Linked DNA regions of Homo sapiens. The protein of the gene in region 1 interacts with the protein of each later gene in a biochemical or structural test. Each region holds a gene or a part of one and is shown on either strand. Other genes may lie near its edges.

Region 1 (3,944 bases):
TGTGCTAAGGAATCTTGGAGAGAAGCTCATCTAACTCTCTTAATGTACAAATTTAGGAACTGAGACCTCATTTCATTCAAGTGACTTGCTCCATGCTACACGGCTAGTCATTACAGAGCCAGAGGCCAGAGCATGAACCAAGATACCCTGGACTCTGTAACTCACTCATTTCTACTGCAACGTCTTGTTACCACCTAGATGAGGTGAGTACATGTTCCTCGCAGGGACACAGAATTACAGTTTATTGAATGTGTCCTGTGTGCCAGGCACCATGTAACCATGAGCCTATGAAGTTCACACTATTATTATCCTCATTTTACAATGAGAAAACTGACATAGAGAGTTAAACTATCTTGTCAAGGTGCCAAAATAAATAACTGGTGAATCTAGGACTCAAACCCAGCAGGGTCTGACTTCATAGTCTCAGCTCACGATCACCATATGACACCATCTGCACCAGGGAAGGGAAGGCATGCAGACCTGACTCTAATGCCAGCTAGGACGTGAGATGGTGCTACCATCTCAAGTGAAGAAAGAGGCAAGAACCAGACTTACTTTGCTCACACTTGAGTCCACTGAAGCCAGGGTCACACTTGCAAGTGTAATTATTGATGGTCTCTACACATTCACCGTGGCCACTGCAGGATGTATTGGTACAGGCAGCTACGGAAAATACAAAGCATGATGAGGAGGACTATTACTGTGCTTATACTGAGTGCCTTTGATTTTAGAATCAACAGTGTGCAACAGAGACATCAGCAGTCCTACAGAGTGCCATAGACTTTAACTGAAGTGTTTTACAAAGTTCCAAATCTGAGTTTCAGGCCCACCTATCCTAAACCTTGATGCTAATGTATAGCTGTGGCTGGCACCTACCGTAGAAAATTTACTTCTTCACAAACTCTGAAGACAGTTCCCCTACCACAAATAAACAAGTAATTAAAATATGTATTGTGTGTGTGCATTTTTATATGTAAAGAACTACATATTTGCCTACAGTATTTATATATATTTTATATATATACATACACACATATATGTGTGTATATGTGTGTATGTATATATATAAAATGTATATAAATGCTGTAGGCTATATATATATACACACACACATATATGTGTGTGTGTATATATGTGTGTGTGTGTATATATATACATATCCACATATTCTTGCCCACATTCACACAAAACAGCAAAAGAGAGAAACTTTAGCAGTTAAACAGAATCTTTTGGAACATAAAATGACCACAATAGAGAGCAGTTTTTGCATGCTGTAAATTTGCCAAGATGCCCACACACTGAAACTACCTCCCACTGCTGCCGCAAACTCCCTACCTGTGTAGCATAGGGCAAGCTTCTTCTTGCTGCACCTCTCATCATTCCACATGCCCACATCTTTTTCTCTCTTGATGTAGATCTCCACGCAGTCCTCATCTTTTTGCCTATTGTTGGGTTCACCTGGAGCCCAGTTCTTGGCTTCTTCTGTCAGAGGTTTCTGGGTTCCTACCCAGACCCACACATTGTTGACTTTTCTGATTCCAATCCAGTAATAACTTGGTGAATAGCTCAATATGGAGTTTAGGTACTCAATCTCTTCTTTGTTTTGAATTGCAACCAGGTGTGTGTACCTTTGCTGACAATAAGCACTGGCCTCATCATAAGTCATAGCTTCCGTGGAGGTGTTGTAAGACCAGGCTCCACTCTCTTTAATGAGAAGCACTAGTGGGAGAAAAAGAAAAGAAATGGTAGAGTTTGGTACTGTTGTGGTTTAACTCTGACAACTGTGCTTTTTATTGTCTTATTTTTGGCAATGTTTGTGACATGGCCCAGACTTTTCTCATCTTTTCAAAAGTAAGAAGTACGTATGAAGAAACAGCGACTTATTGTTTATCTCTTTTGTGACTGCCACCCACTAGGTACCTTATCCACACTCACTCACAACATTATAGTATACCCATTTTGTAGTAGAATAATAATCAGAATAACTAAGCTTTATTGAGCACTTAGTATGCACCAAGAAGCACTGTATGAGGTACTTTCCATGAACCATGCTATTGAATCCTCACAATGCATCTGGGAAATAGGTCATTATGATCCACACTTTACACTTAAGGAAAGGGAGACACCAAGAGGTAAAGTAAATGACCCCAAGCCCAGGGAAGAACACATTGCAGGTAGAGGTCAAGGATGCTGCCAGATATCCTGTGCAGGACAGCCCCAGACAAGCAAGGATATTTCAGTCTGAAATATCTATAGTGCGAGAATGAGAAATCTTGGTCTAATGGCACTGACTTACCCAAAGTGAGAGCTGAGAGAAACTGTGAAGCAATCATGACTTCAAGAGTTCTTTTCACCCAAAGGTTTAGGCTTGAAATACTTTCCTGGGGAGATAAAACACAAAATGAATTAAAGAAGGAAATCGTGGGTAGCTAGTTACATTATTCTACCATGATGTTTAAGGCAGCATCCTAAGATTTTGGGCAAAGGACACTAGTGCAATAATCTTTATTTCAGAGTTTAATCAAATAAATAAACAAATTTTAAGACTTTCATTATTTAGGTCAAAGAGAAAAGACAGGTTTTAGCTACAATACAATAAGAGCTTGTACAGATGTGGTTTTTATTAGAAGGCCTTTTGCATATCTGTGTTTCATGGCCCGAGGCTGCCCTTATAAAGCGTTCTGCACTTACCGTTTTGGGAAGCAGTTGTTCAAACACAGGATCTCTCAGGTGGGTATCACTGCTGCCTCTGTCTCAGGTCAGTATAGGAGTTTTGATGTGAAGTCAGCCAAGAACAGCTGAACACTACTTCGGCTGAGGCCCTTTTATAGGAGGGATTGCTTCCTGTGAATAATAGGAGGATATTGTCCACATCCAGTAAAGAGGAAATCCCCAATGGCATCCAAAAACTTTCCCGGGAATATCCACGATGCTTAAAATTACAATGATGTCAGAAACTCTGTCTCTTGAAGCTACTTCACCTTTGTCCATGCCTTTATATCGTATATGCAATTTTATTAATATGACAAAAATGCATGATTTTTAATTATAATAACATAAAGTCTATGTCTTTAAAAAGTTGTAAAACTTTGCTTGTTAGTAGTGTCTCTCATGTAGTTGTGGTAGTAATTAGAATTTCAGAAACAGAAGGAAACCAAGAATAGGTTTGTCATCCATAGTCTACTACCTTCAATTTCTCATTCATAGCTGTGGATAACCAATCACTACTCATTTTTTCTTCCTTTTTCACCTGCCAATTCAACATATTTAACATGCACTGTCTCACAGAGGAATGACTCACAAGGTAGATATTAATCTTCAGATTTTGCACGGCAGTTATGCCTAAATTAAAATATTATCTAAAAATAATATCTAACACTCAAATGGTTAAAATAATGCCTTATTTTAAAAAAAGAAAAATGGGAAATAGATATTTACATCTGGGAAAGTTTCATGGTTTGTTCAGTGAAAAAAATAAAAAGGAGGCCAGGCACAGTGGCTCACGCCTGTAATCCCACCACTTTGGGAGGCCGAGGCAGGCGGATCACCTGAGGCCGGGAGTTCAAGACCAGCCTGACCAACATGGAGAAACGCCATCTCTACTAAAAATACAAAATTAGCTGGGCATGGTGGCGCATGCCTGTAATCCCAGCTACTCGGGAGGCTGAGGCAGGAGAATCGCTTGAACCCGGGAAGTGGAGGTTGCAGTGAGCCAAGATCACGCCAGTGCACTCCAGCCTGGGAAACGAGTGAAACTCTGTCTTAAAAAAAAAAAAAAAAAAAGAAAAGAAAAGAAAAAAAATAAAACGGAAAACTATATATATATATTTAATTGGTCAAAATTTTGTTTAAAATTTTTGAAATGTTAATGTGCAAAGAATAAAAATTCTTCCACAATGTTAACAGTGACTAACTCTGGATGGCAGGATTTGGGATAATTTTTA
Region 2 (3,500 bases), on another chromosome or scaffold:
AAAGTTATGTCCCCCAGAAAGGCCTGCCACATATTTACCGGGTGCCATGCAGGGCATAGGGTTGAAAGCATAGATGTGGGGTCAGACAAAAAGGATGTTCAAGTCCTAGCTCTGTCCCTTACAAGCTGTATGACCTTGACACAGATGCTTGCCTCCCTGAGCTTCAGTTTTCCCATCTGTAAAATTGGGATAAGAAACAGTGCCCATCTCACAGGGCTGTTGAGACAGTGCAACAAGGGGATAGATTCAAAAGTTCCAGGCTGGTGGGCATGGTGGCTCATGCCTGTAATCCCAGGACTTTGGGAAGCCAAGGCAGGCAGATCACTTGAGCCCATGAGTTCAAGACCAGCCCGGGCAACATAGTGAGATCCCCATCTCGACACAAATAGAAAAATTAGGCCAGTCACGGTGGCTCACTCCTGTAATCCGAGGACTTTGGGAGGCCAAGGCAGGTGGATTGCTTGAGCTCAGGAGTTCCAGACCAGCCTGGGCAACATGGTGAAGCCCTGTCTCTCGTCTCTACAAAATACAAAAAATTAGCCAGGAGTGGTGGTGTGCCCCTGTAGTCCCAGCTACTCAGGAGGCGGAGATGGGAGAATTGCTTGAGCCTGGAGAGATTGAGGCTGCAGTGAGCTGTGATCATGCCACTGCACCCCAGCCTGGGTGACAAAGCAAGACCCTGCCTCAAAAATAAAATAAAAAAATTTTAAATAGAAAAATTAGCCAGGCATGATGATGCACACCTATCGTCTCAGCTACTGGGGAGGCTAATGTGGGAGGATCGCTTAAGCCTGGAAGGTTGAGACTGCAGTGAGCCGAGATTGTACCACTGCACTCCAGCCTGGGCGACAGAGTGAGACCCTGTCTCAAAACAAAACAAGAAAACAAAAGTTCCAAGCTTACAGTAGGTGCTTAATAAATGTAACACACACACACACACACACACACACACACACACACACACACACACTTTTGCCTCCCAATTTGCCTTCAGGGCAGCAGAATTTCTTTGGGGTAGAGTTCTTATCTGGGGGAAGAATCTACGGCCCAACCTTGGCCCCACTTTCCTGGAGGCAGGGACTTTAGGAAGAAGCCATTAGCCTAGAGACATATTTCATACTTATGAGCACACTCACAGCTACCAACCCCCACTTGGGCAGTTCTCTGTTCCTGGAAGGCAAAGCCCTCAGCCACTTCCTGGAAGCAGAGAAGGTGGGGGCAAAGTTGCAAGGCCTGGTCTCCCTGGTTCCCGGGTTGGGGGAGGCATCTTGGTGAGTCAGGGCCGGACTTGCAGCAGGCCGGAGGCTGGGAGAATAACACAGAAACACGGAGGGTGCTGGGGCCCAGTTCTTCAGGTAGGCTGTCACTGTTGCCCACCCTTCCCCTACAGCCATCCCCACAGCCTCCTGCACCCAGAGACAGCTGGGGTGGAGGAGAGGCTGGGGCCTGAATCCCACATTTGCCCCCACTTAGCGGCTGTGTAAACTCGGGCAGGTTGCTTCACCCTCTCTAAGCCTCAGTTTCCTCATTGTAAAACCGGCAATATTGCTTAAAAAAAATCATCATGAGAATTGAATGAGTGTATGGAAGTTCCCAGACGCTGGCTTCCAGCCGGGGGTACTTTATCTGGAGGACTCTCTTCGGCGCTGCAGGCAGATGAGCAGAGGAAATGGAGGTCTCAGACTCAGAGGGTATGGAGATGGCGGCCTCTCTACCTCCCCTGTGGGTGTTTGGGCTTTGAGAAAGCAGAGACCTCCGTACCTGTTATGATAAGACCTGGTACATTCGGAAAGCCCAGACCTCCTTTCCTGGGCCCGTCTAAAGCAACCACCTTATCCTACATGTTCCTGGTGTCAGTGCTGAAAGTCCCTCAACCCCAGAAACCCCTCACTCCCAGGCAAACTGGGGGTGGGGGGTTGTTGGTCACCCCAGCCTGGTCCCTGCCATCCCACTGGCTTTAAGACACAGCAGCCTGGAGCCAGGCCACAGCTGAGCAGGCATCAGCCCATCTAACAGAAAGAAAATCTGAGGCTCAGCCAGGCACGGTGCCTCGAGCTTGTACTCCTAGCACTTTGGGAGGCCAAGGCAGGAGGATGACTTGAAGGCAGGGGTTCAAGACCAGCCTGGGCAACATACTGAGACCCATATCTACAAAAAAATTAAAAATTAGCCAGGTATGCTGGTGATGCCTGTAGTCCCAGCTACTCGGGAGGCTGAGGCCAGAGGATGGCTTGAGCCCAGGTCAAGGCTGCAGTGAGCTATGATCGCACCACTGCACTCCAGCCTGGGTGACAGAGTAAGACCCTGTCTCTAAGAAAAAAACATATTTTTTTTAATGAAAGAAAAGAAAACCCGAGGCTCTGAGAGATCTTGTCTCAGCTGAGGCCACACAGGTAGAAGGGGGAGGAGCTGAGTTTTCTCACCGTGTATGGCAGGTAGCATAATACCTCCTTAATATTTGCTACAGTAAATGTATTATACAACAATAAAAATGACATATGTGGAAGCCCCTCCCACGGAGGGATGATTTCATCCTCTCACTATCTGGTGACCTCATTCCTCCTCACCCCTGTGTTCACTGGCTCTAACGGTGCCATCACACTGATTAGCAAGCAAGGCCCGGAGCGGCGGGATCACTCCCAGGCCCCACCTTCCACCTCTCCTCTTCCTGGAAGGCCAAAAAACAGTCCCACAGAAGTGGGGCCAGGGCAGGGCTCCGACAGAGGCGTCTCCAGTGACCACGTCCTATTTGTCTCAACACTTGCCTAACAGAGTAGGTCAGAGACTGCTCGTTTGCCTCTTTCGCCCTAAAACCAGGCTGCTTCTGGCCCAGGCCCCATCTAGACCCCATATGGGCCCCATCTAGGCTGTGTGGAGGAGCAGGCTGCAGGGGGCCCAGACTCCAGCTCCAGAGAACCCGCCGTGTGGCCGCCCTGAGCTGCTCAGGAAAGATCCTCGTGGGGCTCCACGCCGCTAGGAACCTTGCACTGAGAATCCTGAAACTGGTGGTCAGAGCGGGCAGGATCTTGGAATGCTAAAATTCAAAAGACTGAGCATCTCAGGGTTTGGGTCAAGTAGTCACCAAGAGAAGGAAAGACCCCAGATAACTGAGGCACAGGCAGCAGATCTAAGTCTGGGTAGACAGGACAGGCCCTGCCCTGCCCTGCTGTGCCCTGGGAGTCACATCAAACCAGGTCAATCCCCAGCTCTGTCCCTTAGAAGCTGTGTGACCTGGGGCAACTCACCTCACCTCTCTGAGCTGTGGGTTCCTTAGCTGGAATACAAGGACAATGGTAGCACCCGCTTTTTATGGGGTTGTTGTGGGTTGAAGAGGGCCAGGGAAATGCTGAGTCCTCCCAGAAGCCTTTCCAGATTGCCCCAGGCACGATTAGTCACCTCCCGTGTTTAAATCATTTCTGCTGTTCATTTATTTTCTAAAAATGTATTCACATTGACTCCTAAACTTCCAGAAGGCAGGAACCACAGCTGTCTTGCTGATC
Region 3 (2,338 bases), on another chromosome or scaffold:
TTCTGAATTTTCACAGAAAGGATCTCTATTTCCCAACCCTAAGGTGGCATAGGTCTTCCCACCCTTCCTAGCCACAGGAGTCCCCTGAGACACATCTGAGGAGAGAGGCTCACTCTGCCTAGGCCAGGCAGGCCTGAGGAAGATCCCATGTTTCCAGGAGCCATTTCCTCAGCCTTACTCCTTCCGCCTCCTGCCTCTATTACGGATGTGGGCACTCTCCCTTGGTGAGACTTTCCTTATCTTGTGGGTGCTGTGGGTGCTACAAGTCTCAATGCCCCTCCTTGCCACTGGAGCATGTTGCTGAGAAACACATCTGGGCAAAAATCAAGGCCTTGTGAACTGGTAGAACTCTTCACAAGTGGATTGTGGCCTCCTGTGGTTCTGCCCCTGCCCCCTCTCTGGTACTAACATGCTGGGTCTGGACCATACACTCTGAGGGAAGTAAATTCCTTAACTGATCCTTAAACTCCCCACCCTCCAACTGCCACCTCCTTCAGCTAGAATCACCTGAAGTCAGCTTTGCATTTCCATGGATCGCTAACTCTTCTTTTGCTTCTCCAGCTCAGGACCACTCCAATGACCCACCTAACAAGGTAAGCATAGCCGGTTTTCATGGGCTTATTTTCTCATGGAAATGATTCTGTGTAGAATTGATTATTCATGAAGACACAATGTAACATCAAGTTTGGGTTAATGTTCCTCAGTGCAACAACAAAGACGTATTTGTAATCACTCCCATGAGTCTACTTTGCAGCAAGAACATGCATTTTGGAATTATTCCCATCCTGTGTCTGAATACTGGATGTGACTCTTAGTAGCTCTGTGACCCTTGTCAAGTAACTTAACCTCTTTGATCATCAGCTTTGTCATCTGTAAAATGGGCATTCTGCCTACTTCAAAGAGAAGTTGAAGGGATTAAACGAGATAACCTACAAAGAGCACCCAGCACAATGGCCTAAAAAAGGAAGGCACTGAATCATTCTCACTCCCCTACCTTCAGTCTGATCCTGCTCTTATTGTCAAAAGGATAATTTCAATTTTAATAGATCTGAGATCCTGTTTTTTAATAATAATTTTATAGAATTTTTCATTTTATGGCCAGGCACAGTGGCTCATGCCTGTAATCCCAGCACTTTGGGAGGCCAAGGCAGGTGAAACACAAGGTCAGGAGATCGAGACCATTCTGGCTAACATGGTGAAACCCCAGCTCTACTAAAAATACAAAAAAATTAGCCAGCTGTGGTGGCGGGCGCCTGTAGTCCCAGCTACTTGGGAGGCTGAGGCAGGAGAATGGCGTGAACCCAGGAGGTGGAGTTTGCAGTGAGCCAAGATTGCGCCATTGCGCTCCAGCCTGGGCGACAGAGGGAAACTCTGTCTCAAAAAAAAAAGAAGTTTTCATTTTACCTTTTCAATAGAGCAAACATACATACTGAAAAGTGCTAAATCATAATTATACTTTCACAATGTATGAACTTTCACAAGTTGAACACACCCAGGTAAGCAGCACCCAAATCATGAAATACTACATGACCTCCCCTTAAAAAGAGACCCTTCCAGCCAGGTGCAGTGGCTCACACCTGTAATCCCAGCACTCTGGGAGGCCAAGGCAGGTGGATCACTAGAAGTCAGGAGTTCTAAACCAGCCTGGCCAACATAGTGAAACCTTGTTCTACTAAAAATACAAAAAATTAGCCGGGCGTGGTAGTGGATGCCTGTAATCCCAGCTACTTGGGAGGCTGAGACAGGAGCATCGCTTGAACCCGGGAGGCAGAGCTTGCAGTGAGCCGAGATCGTGCCATTGCACTCCAGCCTGGGCGACAGAGCGAGACTCCGTCGCAAAAAAAAAAAACTCTACCAGTCACTTCCCTCCAAAGAGGAGTAACCACTATCCTGACTTCTAATGCTCCAGATTAGTATTGCTTGGTTTTGTTCCTATCTAAAGGAGAAATAAAACATATCCTTATATGTGGCTTCTTCAACATTGCTTTGTGAGACTCATCCATATTGTATGTATTTGTGGTTTGCTGGTTCTCATTGCTGCATTATCCTATCCCATTGCATATATACCATAATTTCTCTCTTCTAATGATCATTCATCAGGAGGTCAGCAAGCAGAGAATGGGTAACAACAAAAGCCCTTCTCCAGAGCTAAAATTTCAAAATGGTAACAGCTTGTGGTGCTGAATCACACCAGGCAAGGTGAGGCCCTGCCCTGTGTCACTGACTTAACTGATCATTATTTGTGCTTTTCAGATGAATGAAGTTACTTATTCTACCCTGAACTTTGAAGCCCAGCAACCCACACAACCAACTTCAGCCTCCCCATCCCTAACAGCCA

What was found.
Region 2: the proteins of SELE (region 1) and SELPLG form a complex in vitro, tested with the Homo sapiens proteins (one large-scale study listed by IntAct).
Region 3: the proteins of SELE (region 1) and CEACAM1 form a complex in vitro, tested with the Homo sapiens proteins (one large-scale study listed by IntAct).

What each region holds. Positions count from the first base shown.
Region 1 is NC_000001.11:169,731,280-169,735,223, forward strand, and holds the start of SELE (E-selectin precursor), read right to left. Parts: upstream 2,801-3,944; 5' UTR 2,692-2,800; intron 2,382-2,691; 5' UTR 2,334-2,381; coding exon 2,297-2,333; intron 1,720-2,296; coding exon 1,336-1,719; intron 664-1,335; coding exon 556-663; intron 1-555. UniProt on the Homo sapiens protein: Cell-surface glycoprotein having a role in immunoadhesion. Mediates in the adhesion of blood neutrophils in cytokine-activated endothelium through interaction with SELPLG/PSGL1. May have a role in capillary morphogenesis.
Region 2 is NC_000012.12:108,627,395-108,630,894, forward strand, and holds part of SELPLG (P-selectin glycoprotein ligand 1 isoform 2 precursor), read right to left. Parts: intron 1,356-3,500; exon of another isoform or gene 1,252-1,355; intron 1-1,251. UniProt on the Homo sapiens protein: A SLe(x)-type proteoglycan, which through high affinity, calcium-dependent interactions with E-, P- and L-selectins, mediates rapid rolling of leukocytes over vascular surfaces during the initial steps in inflammation.
Region 3 is NC_000019.10:42,509,144-42,511,481, reverse strand, and holds part of CEACAM1 (cell adhesion molecule CEACAM1 isoform 1 precursor), read left to right. Parts: intron 1-561; coding exon 562-593; intron 594-2,253; coding exon 2,254-2,338.